Regions from separate parts of the Homo sapiens genome. Here region 2 is linked to region 1. Evidence: fine-mapped expression QTL. Tissue or cell type: cerebellar hemisphere. Region 1 holds a variant in brackets; the other region holds the start of a gene. All regions are shown on one strand. Distances are between the middles of the regions.

The links. PIP is the estimated chance that this variant, and not a neighbour inherited with it, causes the effect.
Region 2: it holds the start of DLEU1, and the variant in region 1 is fine-mapped to the expression of DLEU1 in cerebellar hemisphere (GTEx, PIP 0.99).

What each region holds. Positions count from the first base shown.
Region 1 is chr13:50,698,706-50,706,810 of GRCh38, reverse strand. No RefSeq gene overlaps it. Among named protein-coding and RNA genes, the nearest start is that of DLEU7-AS1, 110 kb to the left of the region's middle. The variant G/T (reference allele first, on the strand shown) is at 3,322.
Region 2 is chr13:50,078,342-50,086,446 of GRCh38, reverse strand. It overlaps DLEU1 (deleted in lymphocytic leukemia 1), which reads right to left and starts at 4,278. Exons shown (of 7, transcript NR_109974.1): 1 at 3,890-4,278; 2 at 3,253-3,305. All of the region lies in intron 1 of DLEU2 (deleted in lymphocytic leukemia 2), which reads left to right. RefSeq lists enhancers at 3,354-4,149, 5,767-5,826 and silencers at 4,307-4,356, 4,757-4,976, 4,840-5,134.

The DNA of each region.
Region 1 (8,105 bases):
TAAACTCAAGTGCTTACTATCCAAACCAGGCCAACAACTTTAGTGAAGCCCATGGAGTCAGATGTAAACCCTGGGTAATGGTCAGAACTGGCTTCTCCAATGGCTCCAGCCCATTGGACACTCAGCCAATACTGCTACAGGAATGATCCAGCCTTCTGATTGCCTTGATATTTCCAGCAACAACCTGATGCCAGCCCTTCACACTCTTGGAGGGGACAGCAGGAAGCTGAATGTCATTGATTGAAGGAAAATACAACCGGGTGAGGTGGCTCAGGCCTGTAATCCCAGCACTTTGGGAAGCCGAGGTGGGAGGATCGCTTAAGCCTAGGAGTTTGAGACCAGCCTAGGCAACACAGCGAGACCTTATCTCTGCAAAAATTAAAAAAAAAAAAAAATTAACCGGGCATGGTGATGCATGTCTGTAGTCTCAGCTACTCAGGACGCTCAGGTGGGAGGATTGCTTGAGCCCAGGACATCGAAGCTGCAGTGAGCCATGATCATGCCATTGCACCCCAGCGTGGATAACAGAGTGAGACCCTATGTCAAAAAAAAAAAAAGGAAGGAAGGAAGAAAGGAAGGAAGAAAGAAAGAGAAAGAAAGAAAGAGAGAAAGAAAGAAAGAAAAGAAAGAAAGAAAGAAAGAAAGAAAAAGAAAATACCCTGAGGTAGCATGGCTCCAAACACCCTAGGGCCACGTCTGGGAGAGTCGGCCTAGGCAGGGTAGATTCTTGCGTGTTTGAAGACAGCTGTTGAGAAGCTGTGAACCAAGCCCAAGGACCCAAACAGACAGGGAGCTGAATCTCATACCAGAACAACCACCACATTTATATGAGAAAAGTTAAATATGGTTATTCTGAATGAAATTTGCAGGTACTTAAAAAAATTATAGCACCAACCTTGCACAGAACATATGGGAAGCTATTCGAGGTAAAGAACCAGTTTTCTCTAACATGAACATGATCTTTTGCTGCACTATCTGGTGCTACTTTGATCTAAAGAGAAGAGCCACAAAGAAGGTAGCTGTACCAGGAATGGGGACTATGGTATGTGAACAGCTGTAATTGTAAAGCTGCCAGCTTCAGTCCAATGGAGAGAGTAATAGTGAATTTCCACTGATGTGTCAGGCTTTATTCTAAGCATTTTACATATAGCAACCAGTTAAATATTTATAACAACCTTATGGTAGAGGTATTATCATCATCCATTTTGTACAAATAAGGAAACTGAGGCACAGAATACTTTAGATTATTTTGCATCCCAATAGCCCACTCCAGAGCCTGGACTCTTAAGACTTCTTTCTGTTCTGCTATTCTCTTTTAATAACAACCCCAATAGAAGAAGGATTGGGCCGGGCATGGTGGCTCATGCCTGTAATCCCAGCACTTTGGGAGGCCAAGGCGGGCGGATTACCTGAAGTCAGGAGTTCAAGACCAGCCTGGCCAACATGGTGAAGCCCCATCTCTACTAAAAATACCAAAAATTAGCCAGGCGTAGTGGCGGGCACCTATAATCCCAGATACTCGGGAGGCTGAGACAGGAGAATCGCTGAGCCCGGGAGGCTGTGATTGCAGTGAGCCGAGATTGTGCCATTGCACTCCAGCCTGGGCAACAAGAGTGAAACTCCGTCTCAAAAAATAATAACAATAAAATAAATAAATAAATAATAAAAAAAGAAGAAGAATTGATTTGGATTCCTTAGTATTGGATGTGTACATGATGCATGGTAGTTGTATTTTTCTCTGTCGTGTGTGTGTGTTTGTGTGTGTGTGTGTGTTGTATCTGCGTTTCTTAGGCAAATTATTAAGCAAAAGACTCAGTTTAGTCTGAAGCTAGCTGATCAGACACATAACCGAATATCAGGAGGCTTAATCAGTGGCACCACTTGCTACTAACTGGCTTTATAGTTAGATCTCAAGTGCTCATTTCCTCATCTATGTAAGAGGGGGTTGGACCAATCACCTTCTCATTTTCAAGATGGGTAAAACTACAGCTGTGTCACCTTCCAATAGGACTGAAAGTTTGGGAAGTGAGGCAATTACCTCCCCTGCCCCTAGTACTATCACCAATCAGCTGCCATAAAGCCAAATCTTAACTGAGGGTGAATTCTTTGGTGGTTTAAGTGAGTTTGAGAGTTAGACTAGACACTCTGACCTCTCTCCATAGGAACCTAGGAGAGACCCTGGTTTCTTCCAGGCTGTATGGTGAGTGAGCAACCATTCAGGGTGGCTTCTATTCAATAGAAGGATCTGTTTCAGCAATTTCTAAAAGTTAGCCACTTTCTTCTCTTTAGGATGTGACTTGATTTGACCAAAGTTTCTACAAGGCAGCCCTCTAAGCTGCCATGGGCCTCCTGCAGGTATGGCCTGAGATATAGTCTATGATATAGACCAAGGCAGTCTGTAGAATCTGGAGTTAAGCATCTTATTATCATCTCCTCAGTAATCAATTTTATCAACCCAGAGATTTGACTAAAGAGAGTATGGAATGCTCAGGTGTGGCAGACCAACCTGACTCAAGCACACATTCTTTCTAAAGGGAAACAGAAGAAGTTAGACACATGACCTCAAAGCTCAGAAAGTGAGCACTTCTTACATCTATTGCTGTAGAGAGCTGCACAAGAGGCATCATCAGCGCTTAAGTAATTTAAGGTTCATTCTGTAGGACACATTTCTAGAAAAGGAATCTGGGTAAAAGAGTACTAAAATGTCTAAGCTTTTGGTTCAAGATGTCTTTTCTAACAATAGCTGTTGACTGAAAAGACTAAGAAAAGGTGGCACGTGGCTCAGCACATGCTTAGCGGCTGGAACAGAAGCTTCAGCTACACACCTAGTTAGTGATGTATGATGTATCTGGCTCTGTCTTTTGCTTCCCTGGCTTCCCTTTTTTTAAAGTCAGGTTTTTCAAGGTATAATTTATATACAGTAAAATTTACCCTTTTTAAGTGTGCAGTTTGATGGATCTTGAAAAACACATACAGTTGTGTAAGCACCACCACAATCAAGACCTAGAGCATTCTCTCTGCACCTTTGTGATCAGTCCTCTCTCTCCATTCTCAGCCCCTGGCAATTACTGTCCCTATAGTTTGCCTTTTGTGGCATGTGATTCATATGAAAGGACAGAGCAGGTGGTCTTTTAAGTCTGGCTTTTTTTCACTTAGCATTATGCATTTGAGTTCATCCGTGTTGTTACATATAGCACAAGTTATTCTCTTTAATTGCTGTCATATTCCATTGTATCAATGTAACAGAGTCTGTTCATTTATTTACTGGGCGGTGGTTATTTGGGTTGTTCGTAATTTTTTGGAGGTTGTGAATAATGCCTC[G/T]CAACATGAAGATGTTTTATATCTCTCGGGTAGATACTCCAATGCTTTATGTTTTCATTTCTCTTGGGTAAATATCCAAATGCTCAGTTGTATAAGTGACATTCAACTTTATAAGAAATTGTCAGACTGACTTCTTAAGTGGCACTTAGCATTACCACCAGCAATACCTGAGAGTTCCAATTACTCTGCATCCTTATCAGCTCTTGACCTTGCCGTTTTAAAGTTTCTATTGTTAAAAAGAGGTATGGCAGTATTTCACTGTTTTTAATTTGCATATCCTTAATGACGAATACTGTTGAGTGTCTTTTCATTTGTTCATTTGCCTTCCACATACCTTCTTTGCTGAAATGTCCAAGTCTTTTGGCCATTTTTTATTAGGTTGTTAGTTTACTTTTATTATTATTTGTCAGAGTTCTTTATATATTCTGAAAACAAGTCTTTCATAACATACGTATTTTGTAAATATTTTGTCCCAGTCTGTGGCTTGTCTATTTATTTTTTTTCTTAACAGTATATTTCAAAGAACAGCACTTTTTATTTCAATGAAGTCCTACTTAATTTTTGTGTGTGGCCTAGCTAAGAAAGCAGCACTTATCGATGGTTGCAAAAATCTCTTCCCTATCTTTTCCTCTAGAAATTTCTTATTGTTAGGTTTTACATGTAGGCCTATGTTCCAATTTGAGTTGATTTTGTATTTGAGGCAAGGGATGGGTTGAGAATCATGTTTTTGCATATAGGTATCTGTTTCGCTGACATCTGTTGAAAAAAACTATCCTCCATTGAATTTCCTTTGTTCCTTAGTTGAAAATCAATTATCCTTATATTTGTGGATTTATTTTGGATTCAGTTTAATTTCATTGACTTGTGGTGACTCTTTCACCAACATGCATACTTTTGACACTGTAGCTTTAGAGTTAATTCTTTAGATTAACTTTGTTTTTTCTCCAAATTCTTTTCACTAATCTGTTTACTTTGCTTTTCCATAAAAATTTTAGAATCTGCTTGTTGATTTCTACAACAGATCTTGCTAGGATTTGTATTGAGGCTGCATTGAATCTACAGATCACTTTAGGAAGGATTTACATTTCTGGCCACCTTTTTTTTTTTTTTTTTTTTTTTTCTGACAGGGTCTTGGTCTTGCTCTGTTGCCCAGGCTGGAGTGCAGCAGCACAACTACTGCTCACTGCAGCCTTGATCTCCTGGGTTCAAGCACACCACCCACCTCAGCTTCCCAAGCTGCTGGGACTACAGGCACATGCCATCATGCCTAATTTTTTTTTTGGTAGTGACAGAGTTTCTCCATGTTGCCCAGGCTGGTCTTGAACTCCTGGGCTCAAGCAACCCACCTGCCTTGGCCTCCCAAAGTGCTGGGATTACAGGAGTAAGCCACCACCCAGCCCTGGTCACTTTTTGATCCTAACTTATTTCTTCTACCTTGGCTTATGAAACCAGCCACCAACGTGCCTGTTGTTATTGCACAGCTTGTCCTCATGATTGGATCTGCACTGGATGTTAGCTGTTGGTAAACAATTCATACTGACTTTAACCCTACACGACATAGTATCACCTGGTATACGGACCCAGGTTTTTACCATCCCTTTAACGAGGTCTTTGCAGGTAACTTTGTAATGTCCTCCTACTGTGGATAAGGTAACCTGCTCCACCACTTGAAATTGGGCTCAAAATTAGCTTTGTCCCATGGAATTTAGGAGATATGACACAACAAAAGACTTGAAATGGTCTTGTGCATTGAGGCTTGCTTTCTTGTGCCTCTGTCATTGCCTCAAGAATATGTCTGCTGGAGAATGAAAGATAATTGGAACTGAGCCAAATTGCCCCAATCATCCCAGTCAAGGGAAGCCTTGATCAGCTGACAGCCAATTTACCCCCAGATATGTGAACGTGCACAGCCAAGATCAGCATACTGCCTAGCTAAGCACTCCAAATGCAGGAGTTATAAATATCTATTATCATATGCTACTGAACGTTTGTGTTTATTTTTTATGAAGCATCATGATAGCAATAGATAACTGACACATGTCGGTAACAACAGGCTCTTTAAATGCATTACAGATAGCATCGCAAAATAACTTATAGGGCTAGGGCAGTCTGTAACCAAATATAGCTAGTTTCATGGGTTAATCACATCTCTTGATTTTTTCCCATCATTCTCAATACCAAATACTAAAGAAAATTATTATAATAGAAACTTTTCTAGGTCCTCATCACCACCTCCAACCCCTGAGTCAAGTAAAACTGTAAAACTGTGAAGGACTCCATTCCACTTCATTTTTATTCTTAATCACAAGGAGGTTATATTGCCTTAACCCTTTTAGTAAATGATTGAGCATCCCAGATGTGTAATGGTTTTGGAAAAGGTCAGAAAAATGTCAAAAGAAAGGCAAGCAACAAGAAAATGATTAATCAGCTTTTCTTCTCATCAAAGTCTTGAACTATTTGCTGAATTGGGGTTTTTAATTTTTTATATATTTAAATTTTTAGGTAGCTATCCTTTGGAGTAGGAATGCCATGGCATAAAGAGTCATAACATTTAAAACATGTTTATGAAGTCTAAACCACTAACTTGGCTGCGGTTGAAATGCATTAGGCTCCTTTGTGCTGTGCTCACACCCCTCCCAAAGGTTGTGCTGGCAAAGCTTTCTCCTACTGCTGCTGCCTCCTCCCTGGATGGCACCATGAGCTGTAAGACAAATGTAGGCATATAACCCACATTAAAGGGCATTGAGAAGTATTAGAAGTTGTGCTTCTTCAGGCTTTGACATCTGACACATTTCTAATCACTGGGGTGTGCTTGGGTCAGAGGCCCTTTACATCAGGATCATTTTGCACAGCTTAAATTTCAGGGTCTCCTATTAGAGCCGAAGAGAAGAGAGATCCCCAATCCACAGCCATGCCGCTGTCAGGGGCAATACCTCCTCGAAGAGGGGCCTCTGGGGCCCAGGGACAGAAACCTGCCACCACCACCCATGGTGGTGGAATTTAAGCCTGGAATGCTTAAGACTTTGGCCCTGGCAGTAGTCTCACTTGATTGATTTTATTCACCCACCCCTGACCCAGTCTTTTTGATGACTTTGTTGCATTGCCTCCTTGAGAAATAAAAATAGACTGGGTAAACCAAATTTGGTTAAGATTTAAGTTCTTAGGCAAAAAATAGCACTAGTCTCTGAAGCCAGTGCAGGGCTTTGCTCATAAGCTGAAGGGGCAGTCCAAAGAAAAAGTTAGGGTTTGTCAAATATGCTAAAGCAGCAGGGCAGGCCTAAGCTGATAAGAGCTACTAGTGTGTTTACATGAAATGAACAGGTCAAAGCACATTCAATAGAAATTATAGGAGACAGATAGTGGGATAGAATCACATTCATCTGGTTTCAAATTTCTTCCTTACCCATTACCAGCTGTGGTATCAGAGTCTCAGTTTTCTCAATTCTAAAACAGGGATATTAATAGAACTTATTTCATACGGCTGTAATGAACTTTAAAATAAATAAATAAATATAGTTTGCCTGATACTGCTTCTGACTCATTAAGTACTCAATAAATGGCAGTTAATATTGTTAGTATTGATGCCATTACTTACAGTGAAACTGCTTAGGATGTGATATTACATAAAAATCCACCAGAATACAAAGTTGGATTGGCAATATAATTAAAACTATGCTAAAAAGAATAATAAGGAAAAGGCTGGAAATGCATTGGAATGCTATCGTGTGAGTCAGGTCAGTGGGATTATTGGTGGCTTCTCTTTCTTTTCTACTTTCCAAGTTTTCTGCTACAGTACTATACTATATTTATGATTAAAATAATGTTTTAAAAATGTAAATTATGTGCAATATCTTACCAAATAGGCTAACCTGAATCTAATCATGAGAAAACTATCATATAAAACCAGACAATGGGACATTCAGGAAGACAATTCCCTTGAATTCATAAAAATGTCATTAAAAAAAAAAAGTACAAAGGATCCCAACTTTGGGAGGACAAGGCGGGAGGATTACTTGAAGCCAAGAGTTTGAGACCAGCCTGGGTAGCAAAGTGAGACCCTTGTCTCTACAAAAAACTTTTAAAAAGTGCAAAGACAGGAGAACTGAGAACTATACTATAGTTAAAGAGATCAAAGAGATAATAGCAACCAAATATAATGTGTGAATCTTGACGGGATCCTGGATCAGAGAAAAAAATATATGAAAGTCAATTTTGGGAAAATTGGGGAATTCAAATCTGGCCTGTATATTAGATATGTTATATGTTATTTTTTCTTGGCTATAATAATGAAAATGTTATGTAGTAGAATGTCCTTATTCTTAGAAAATGCAAGCTGAAGTACTTATGAGTGACATGTCACAATATTGATTATATAGATACAGCTGTATCTGTCTATTAATTATCAGTAACGTATTATCTATCGCTAAAAAGCATTATGTTTTCAAAGTGATTTTTATGTCTGTGAAGTTTTTTGAGTCTCATAAGAAGCCAGTTGGAAAATGATCATTAGTTTTATGGTAAATTTTGACTTTGATTTATCTTACACGGATATATGTCTTCTACAAATAATTCCCAGAGGACTAAAACTATGCCATTCCAACACATCCAATGTATGTATGTACATGTGTATACATACACACATATATGTATATACATGATAGATGTACATATATATGATAGATACACACACACATATTTTTATATATATATATATATATATTTTTTTTTTTTTTACATATTTTATTTCCTGATTCCCTAAAATGCTTGGCATCAAATTTTGATTT
Region 2 (8,105 bases), 620 kb after region 1:
AGAACACCAATGTTCCTTAAAAGAATAGTTTGGCAGTGTCAACACTGCAAAATTTTAGTTTGACTTTTTGATATGTATATTTTTAACTATAATCATAAAACCTTGATATGGGTTGAAAGTTTTTTTCTTGTATTTTTCCTCTGTGTGTTTTTTATAGACTGTGTATATGGAGAGAGAGAGAAAAAGAAAACTCACCCATGTACAAGAGCAAGCAAATGATATAGATGTTCTTTGAACTCTTTTTAATATTGTAACTTTTTGTAAATTTGAAATTATTTCCAAAAAAAGTTGTATTTTTTAAATTAAGTCCCATCTCAGAGAAACAAGACCAACACGAAAATAAAAGGAAGTTGAAAACCCTGCTAAGCAAAGTTTTTAATACATTCAGTAGTATATACTGTTTTCAAGGTACTGTCTGCATTCTTTCTTTCTTTTTTTTTTCTCGAGACAGAGTCTTGCTCAGTGGCCCAGGCTGGAGTGCAGTGGCGCGATCTCGGCTCACTGCAAGCTCCGCCTCCCAGGTTCATGCCATTCTCCTGCCTCAGCCTCCCGAGTAGCTGGGACTACAGGCGCCTGCCACCACGCTCAGCTAATTTTTTTGTATTTTTAGTAGAGACGGGGTTTCACCATGTTAGCCAGGATGGTCTCGATCTCCTGACCTCGTGATCCGCCTGCCTCGGCCTCCCAAAGTGCTGGGATTACAGGCGTGAGCCACCGCGCCCGGCCTGCATTCTTTCTTGAAAGATGAACAGACCTATAGCTTTCACAGTTTTATCTAAATAAGTTAATATGTTGAAGCCAACATTGCATCAGTTGTAGCTTACTCATTATAAACTTCAGCAGGAGGGAAAAAAAGCATAGAAATTACAAGACCTCTGTTCTTCACACTACCCATATTTAGCATCCATTAGCTGGTGATTGCATTTCAGTTTCCAAGAGCAAAACCCCAGATTTTAAATTATGACTTCAGTTCTACTCTTATTGACAAGTAAAGAGGGGTATGCAGAGACACAAACTAACTGTGAGTGGAAAGGGGTGGGGGAGGGATGATTAACTCTTGACTGTATTGAAGAAAGCAAGCTGACACTTCTGCCCTAATTGAGCACCTAAGTAATTGAGTTCTTTCTTCTTATAAAGTACATTACTTTGTAGGGTATTAAAGTTCCAGGCAGGAATTCTTACTAGTTTTAACCCACGAATTTGATGGTCTAAAGTAAAAGCACTTTTCCCGTTTTTCCTTTGAAATTTAACTCAGGAATTTGCACCCCCTTGTGGTCAAATATAAAATTCTTAGTTTTCAAAAGACCGTTTTTTACAATCGGGCTCTCTGTTCAGGCATAGGAACTACTGTATGTTAGTTGATTTTGTTTTCTCCCATTTTAGCAAATCAAGAAGCTTTCATGAAAGATTTTTTCTTAAATAAGACTTTAAACACAATTAGACTTAAATCTTCTAAAAGTGACTTACACATAAACTTTAGTCTCTGCAAAATAGAGATAATTGCACCCACTTAATGAGTTACATGATGATTCGATGGAAAAATGCATGTACATGCTTAGCCCAGTGTCTGACACATATTAGGTCTTCAATAAATGTTATCATTTATCATCATCACTTTAGAATTCTCTTGACATATTATATCTAAAAGGGGACTAAGATAAAAAATTCTACAGTGAGGAAACCAGATTGTGCTACTTACCTATTTGTAAGTTCTAGTACAATTTTACACATGTCTCCCAAATATACCACTTATCCAGACCCCCCCTAGCTGATTGTCCCCACAGGTACATTATATTTTTAAAGTACAAACAATATGTGGTTATCCCTGAATGCTAGAAATTTGGATGATTTTTACTTTATATATATTTTAGATGGGCCTCGGTTTTTTAACCTTAACAATCAGAAAAAGCAATAAATCTATTCCATTTCCAGGTATTATTCTTATGAGATGGTAAAATAAATTAACATCCTTATTTGCCTAACAGGGATCATTATTCATATTTGGGAAAAATCATTTGTCAGTTTGATTTATCATTTTAAGGAGCTCTTGAATAAGAATGCTAACCCCGCCCAGCGCGGTGGCTCACGCCTATAATCCCAGCACTTTGGGAGGCAAAGGCAGACAGATCACGAGGTCAGGAGTTGGAGACCAGCCTGACCAACATGGTGAAACCCCGTCTCTACTAAAAATACAAAAATTAGCCGGGCGTGGTGGCGCGCACCTGTAATCCCAGCTACATGGGAGGCTGAGGCAGGAGAACTGCTTGAACCCGGGAGGCAGAGGTTGCAGTGATCCAACCAGCCTGGGCAACAGAGTGAGGCTCCCTCTCAGAAAAAAAAAGAAAAAAAATGCTGACCCCTAAAGGCACTAACTGTAGTTTGATTTTTGAACAACCATTAAAGAAGCCAGTTTAAAAGATCAATGACTGACTGACAATAACAAACATTTACTAATATGCCAAGCACTGTTGAAATTCCTTTAATATGTTAGCTCATTTACATCCTTACAACAGTCCAATGAGGTATTAATAGTACTTGTTTTACAAAAGGTCCAACAGATAATTTACCCAACAAGGCACAGCTAGTAAGTAGTGGAGCTGGGATTCACCCAGGCAGCTCGGTTCCAGAGTCGACCCACTTAAGTAGTGCAAAAAAGTACCAGAGATTAAGTAGTGTATTTATACTACTCTGCCACGTTACTTCTTGCTGATCTCAAATTGCTAAAATCCATTTCTTTTCCAAGACACTTAAATAATGCAAACCATGCTACCCTTCTCCCACTTCCTTATTAGTACTTCAGGCACTTTCATATCTACTCTCTTATTTAACATTCACAATGAAGGTTTTAAAATATTTACAACTTTATAGGGCTCCACGCGGTGGCTCACGCCTGTAATCCCAACACTTTGGGAGGCCGAGGCGGGCGGATCGCGAGGTCAAGAGATCGAGACCCTTCTGGCCAACATGGTGAAACCCCGTCTCTATTAAAAGTACAAAAATTAGCTGGGCGTGGTGGCACTTGCCTGTAGTCCCAGCTACTCGGGAGGCTGAGGCAGGAGAATTGCTTGAACCCGGGAGGCGGAGGCTGCAGTGAGCCGAGATCGCGCCACTGCACTCCAGCCTGGCGACAGAGCGAGGCTCCGTCTCAAAAAAAAAAAAAAATTACAACTTTATTATCGTTAATTGTCCTATCAGAGTGCCCATTTTTTTTGAAGGTAGACAGGTTTGCCTAGATATGGTGCTTCTACTTACCAGTTCTAAGACTTTGGGGCAGATTTCTTAATCTGAACCTCAGGTGTCCTCATCTGTAAAGTGAAGATAATACCTACTTCATAAGGCTGTTGTGAGCAATAAACACGATTAATTCGTAAATCATTTATTTAGCACAGTGCCCAGCACACAGTACACAGTCAATACGTGGTAGCTGTCAGTATACCAACGTGTTGCACAACAGAAACTCGTCTTTGCTGGATTCAGTTCACTTATCACGCCATTAAAAAAAAAAATCATCCTAAGTGACACAGAAAAACTGCCCATTCCTATCTCAAAAAGTTTATGAACAAGTTAAGACGGTAAGAGAAACTGAATTCAATGAAAGCGCCTTCGCAACAGGCAGCTTAGGACCGGGAAGAAGGGCTTCAGCAAACTTAATCATTAACTCTAGGCAGGCGCGCGCGCACACACACACACACCGTTGAAGAAGGAGACCACGCCTCCTGTGTGGGCTCAGGTTGAATCGTACAGCGTGGTAGAGAACTCCAGGGCTGCTGAATCTGACAGATGTGGATTCATCCACTTCTGTGCCACCTGTGCTGTCTTGGGCAAATTACTTAACGTCTCTGAGCCTAGGTTTCCTGGTCTTCAAAACGAGAACAGTAATAGTTCCTACCTGGTAAAGTTGTTCCGAGGCTTAAGTGCGATAACCCCTGTAAAGCGCTGGAGAACGGCAAAAGCTCTACAAGCCGGCAGGGCGGTTTTAAATGCACGTGTATCCATATACAAGGTCTCATTGATACATTCCGTTGTTTGGAGTTTAGACACTGGCTGTAAGACGTTTTTCTTTTCTCCTAAGCAGGACCCGTATTTGTTTACCTCCAACGTAGACTAAATGCCTGTGGGCTGGTAGCTATAAGACGACCCCTCGGCCCCACAACCTCTAAGTTCACTTCACCTCCGCGGCTTTGCAAAAGCGCTACACGCACGCGCAAGAAGCAAGAGGACTGCAACCGAAGAAGCAAAGGGAGAGCCGTGCACCACGATGATTCTGCGCATGTGCCTGGCGGGAGGAGGGGGGAGGGTTGGAGTTTGCGCATGCGTAAAAATGTCGGGAAAGCAAGAGAAGGGGGGTTAAGAGGCGGTATTGACAGCTGTGGAGGCAGCCCGCGTTCCCGGCATTCCCTGGGGCGGCGGGGTTGGCTCTAACGAATTTGAATGAGGAGCCTCAGCGCTTTCGGCGCCATTTTCGAGTGATGCCTGATCTCATCAATCTAGCGGGAGAGACAGGATAACCTGTCCGAGAGTATAGCGCCACTATGACTCCGCCGGAAAAATTACTTTAAAAATCGCCAAAAATTACTTGGAGCAAAGGGCAGTCGGCGGAGCTTCGCCAAGGCTGGCGCAGTCGGTAAGAGCCTGAAGAAGTAGCAGAGCGGGACTCGGGAGGTGGCAGTGGTGGGACCCGCAGGCAGTGGTGGGTGCAGGGAGTGGGCGCGGGGTCTACTCTCACTTAATCGCGAAAAATCCGAGGAAGTAGGGTTAGGGGCAACTTGGGCGTCTGCGAGTGGGCGGCGGCGGGCGGAATGTGGCGGGAGCGCGGAGAGACGGGGCTGTGGGGGGAGGGGAGCTGCAGTTTGAGCGGGACGCGGACCGGCTGCGGCGGAGCAGCCGCCGCCCAGCGGATCTGTCAGCAAGACCCCCCGCCCGGGACCGGAGCCGGGGACGGCGCACTGCGGGGTCTCTGCAGGCGGCCGCTCCTTGACAGGAGGACTGGACGCGCGCCCCTCCCCCATTTCCGAACCGGGCCGCCTTTTCTCGCCGTTTTCTCGACCCGGTGATGGCCGTCATCTCGTGACAAGAAACTTAAGGTCGACAGAAAATTCAGGACCCGGAGTCATGGGTCCCTCCGGTGGGTCGTGGCAACAGTCCCCCCCGCCACCGCCCGGCACCCATCTATCTATATTGTCTTTTGACGCTGAAGCGTGAGGTGCCCCAGGAAAGAGTTTCCCAAGCCCTGGCTGCCCTCCCCCGGCGCGCTGGGTCCCGGTGAGGTCTCTAGGTAGGTAGGACTGGCCGCGGCTCGCGCTTCCAAGATGGGGCAGGGGCAGGCTTTTGAGGTTGTAGCGGGCTCTTAGGAAAGATGCTGGACTTTAGCTTCTTTCTGGGGATTTTTGTCATTTGCTCTCGCAGCGTTGTCCTTTCTCAAAGGGGAGGAGTGTTCACGGGTGAGATGAAAGATGGGGCTTCGAGCTAACGATTTCCTTCTCGTGGCTATTTCCTCCGAGTCGCACTTTCTTAGAAGACTTTTTTCTTCTCCGGTGTTTGAAACATGTCGCAAGGAAAAAAGCAATCTGTGAAACTATTAATGTTTTCCTCCCCCAAAAGTCTTTACCCGGACAACTTAACGGTAATTTTGCGATCCCCACCTTTTCTTGACGCTGAGGAGGAGGGACGAGAGTTGTTATTTGTCTTTCCCTTCGGTGATTTTTTTTTTCCCCCTTAGCTGGTGGTTTCTATCAATTCTTACTCCACAGCTCTTGAGTGATGTGAGCCAGTGACGGCATTAACTTTAGGTAATACTTCTATGGCCTTTGTAAAAATCCCGCGTTAAGGATGTATTAGATCTTGAGTTCTTTTCCGCGCTGGAGGCACCACTAGATTAACCCTTTGCCGGTGTATTGCGTGTGGGGCGCACGGCTCTGGGTTGCAAATATTCCGGAGATGCTTTCTGCAGCAGCTATTCTGTTCAGTTGTTCGCAAAGAGGAATAACGCTTCCTGGGAACCGCGGTGACACGCTTCTTTAGGACTGCCTGCCTACAGAGTTTTTCCCCGTGGAATTGATGTAACGATTGATTTATTTCTTATATTCTATGAAGACTGGGGGACCCGCCCTCGCTTAGAATGTTTCCCGGAGGAGAATAGAAGAGTGCAATGTGATGTTTTTCAAATTGTGTCTAACGGAGCTCCCTAAACTCTGGACTTGTTACCCCCTGATTGGCTGGAAGGAAGCGGGCCTGGGGGGTTTGAATGTTGAACGCTAAACTATAATTCTCGACTTTACGAAAAAATATACTTTTAGCCAGAGAACCACGGAAATAGCTACGAAACGTTAGGACGAGAGTTTAGAAAAAAAGTTGGTTTTTAATAGTTTTTTTTCCTCTCAGAAAGGATTTTCGTGTGGTTCTCAAATGTATATTAAAAGTAAAACTGAAGAGGCTGTTTTCGCAAAATTATGTTTCTGCTGGTTGAAATTAACAAGACTTTTATATATTTGTCACTGTTCTTTATTGGTTAAAAACTGAGTGAAAAATTTAGTTTTTTTCCTTTGATAGGAATTTTTCACCTTAAACTACATATATTTGTTGGATGCAGATTACCGGACAGTTGTTTCTTTTATTTTGATGCAAAGAAACTAATTTTCTTAAGGTTCACGAATGATCTTTTTAACATTTTCCATAAAAATTGAACATCTTATTTAAAAAACTTTTCGCATCTAGTGAAAATATACATTTTGCTAATTCAGTAACTGCAGTGAACTAAAACTTTAATTTACAAAACATTTATGTTTCTTAATTTAGACAACAGGTAAGCACAGGTGCGTATCTATTATTTAGTTCCTTTGATAAATTCATTATGAAGAAATATATTGTATACAACAGTGTGGGTGTGCTGTTTTTTATCTGGTTGATTTTCAGTTGATTTTTGTTCGATGTTGCCTGAGACAGCCTCAGTATATTTCCATTTATTACCGAGCTTGTCATTCCATTTAATTGCATCTTGATAAAAGGCAGGTGTCGTTTTCAAAGAACAGCGGCAAACTAACTGATAAACAGCTGTAGATGCTTTGAGAAACAATTGTTTTAATTTAATAGACGTTTATATTCTTTTATGAATAGTAGTTAAATTTTGAAGCTTATAGTGTGTATGTTCGCATTAAGTCAAATACGCATTGTTAAAAAATATTCAAATAAAAAATCTTATGGCTTTTATAAATCTCTGTAGGGCTGTAAATATAATTTACATTAGTAAGTGGAATAGCTGAGTTTATAATTCATACTATTTTGTACTGCCCTCATAACAAGAATTGTGATAACAGATCCCTTTTCATTACCTTTGTTCAAAGCTATTTATTTTGGGTCATCTTATGAAAATTTCATAGAAGGTGCTAATTATCTTCTCTATAAAATTTGATTTAATGAAATTTTAGGAGATCTCATTTCTATTTTAAACGTAATTATACCTAAAGTACCAGAACTCCTGGGTTTTGCTTTTTACTGATGGTTTTTGTTTTGAGTTTTGTATTCTCATTCAAATTACGTGAGTTTTGGGAAGAGTTGGGGGCAAGCTTTAAATTCCACCAGGCTGGTTAAGTATAACCATACATTTTTAGCACTTTGGTTTATGGGATTTTTTGTTTGTTTAGGGGGTAATGGGTAAAGGATTGTTTGTTTAATAAGCCATTTTTAAAAGAAGTGATTCCTTTATTTAAAATACATCACTTCAAATTTGAGAATACACTAGCGCCTAAATAAAATCCACAGCATTCAAAATATTTTCACTTTTATGTGATGCTATATAAGAGGAAGATTTTGGTTTTAGACTTGTGGGCATATAGGTATAAGTTACAACATATGTGTATTTTTTAATGTTTATGTGCACTTATCCATATTTCTCTGTAGAAATTGACAGTTGTAATTTATTTTGTATTACAAAGTCATTTATTACCATAGGAAAGCAACTGCGGGGTGTGGTGTTGCTATAATAGGTCACCCCTTTTTAAAGTTATGTTTACCTATTGTGGGGGAAAGGGGACTGGTAAGGTATCAGTCTTCCTGGTAGCATTGATTTTCATTTGTTTGCCCCCACACTATTTTTAAAAATTCAAATA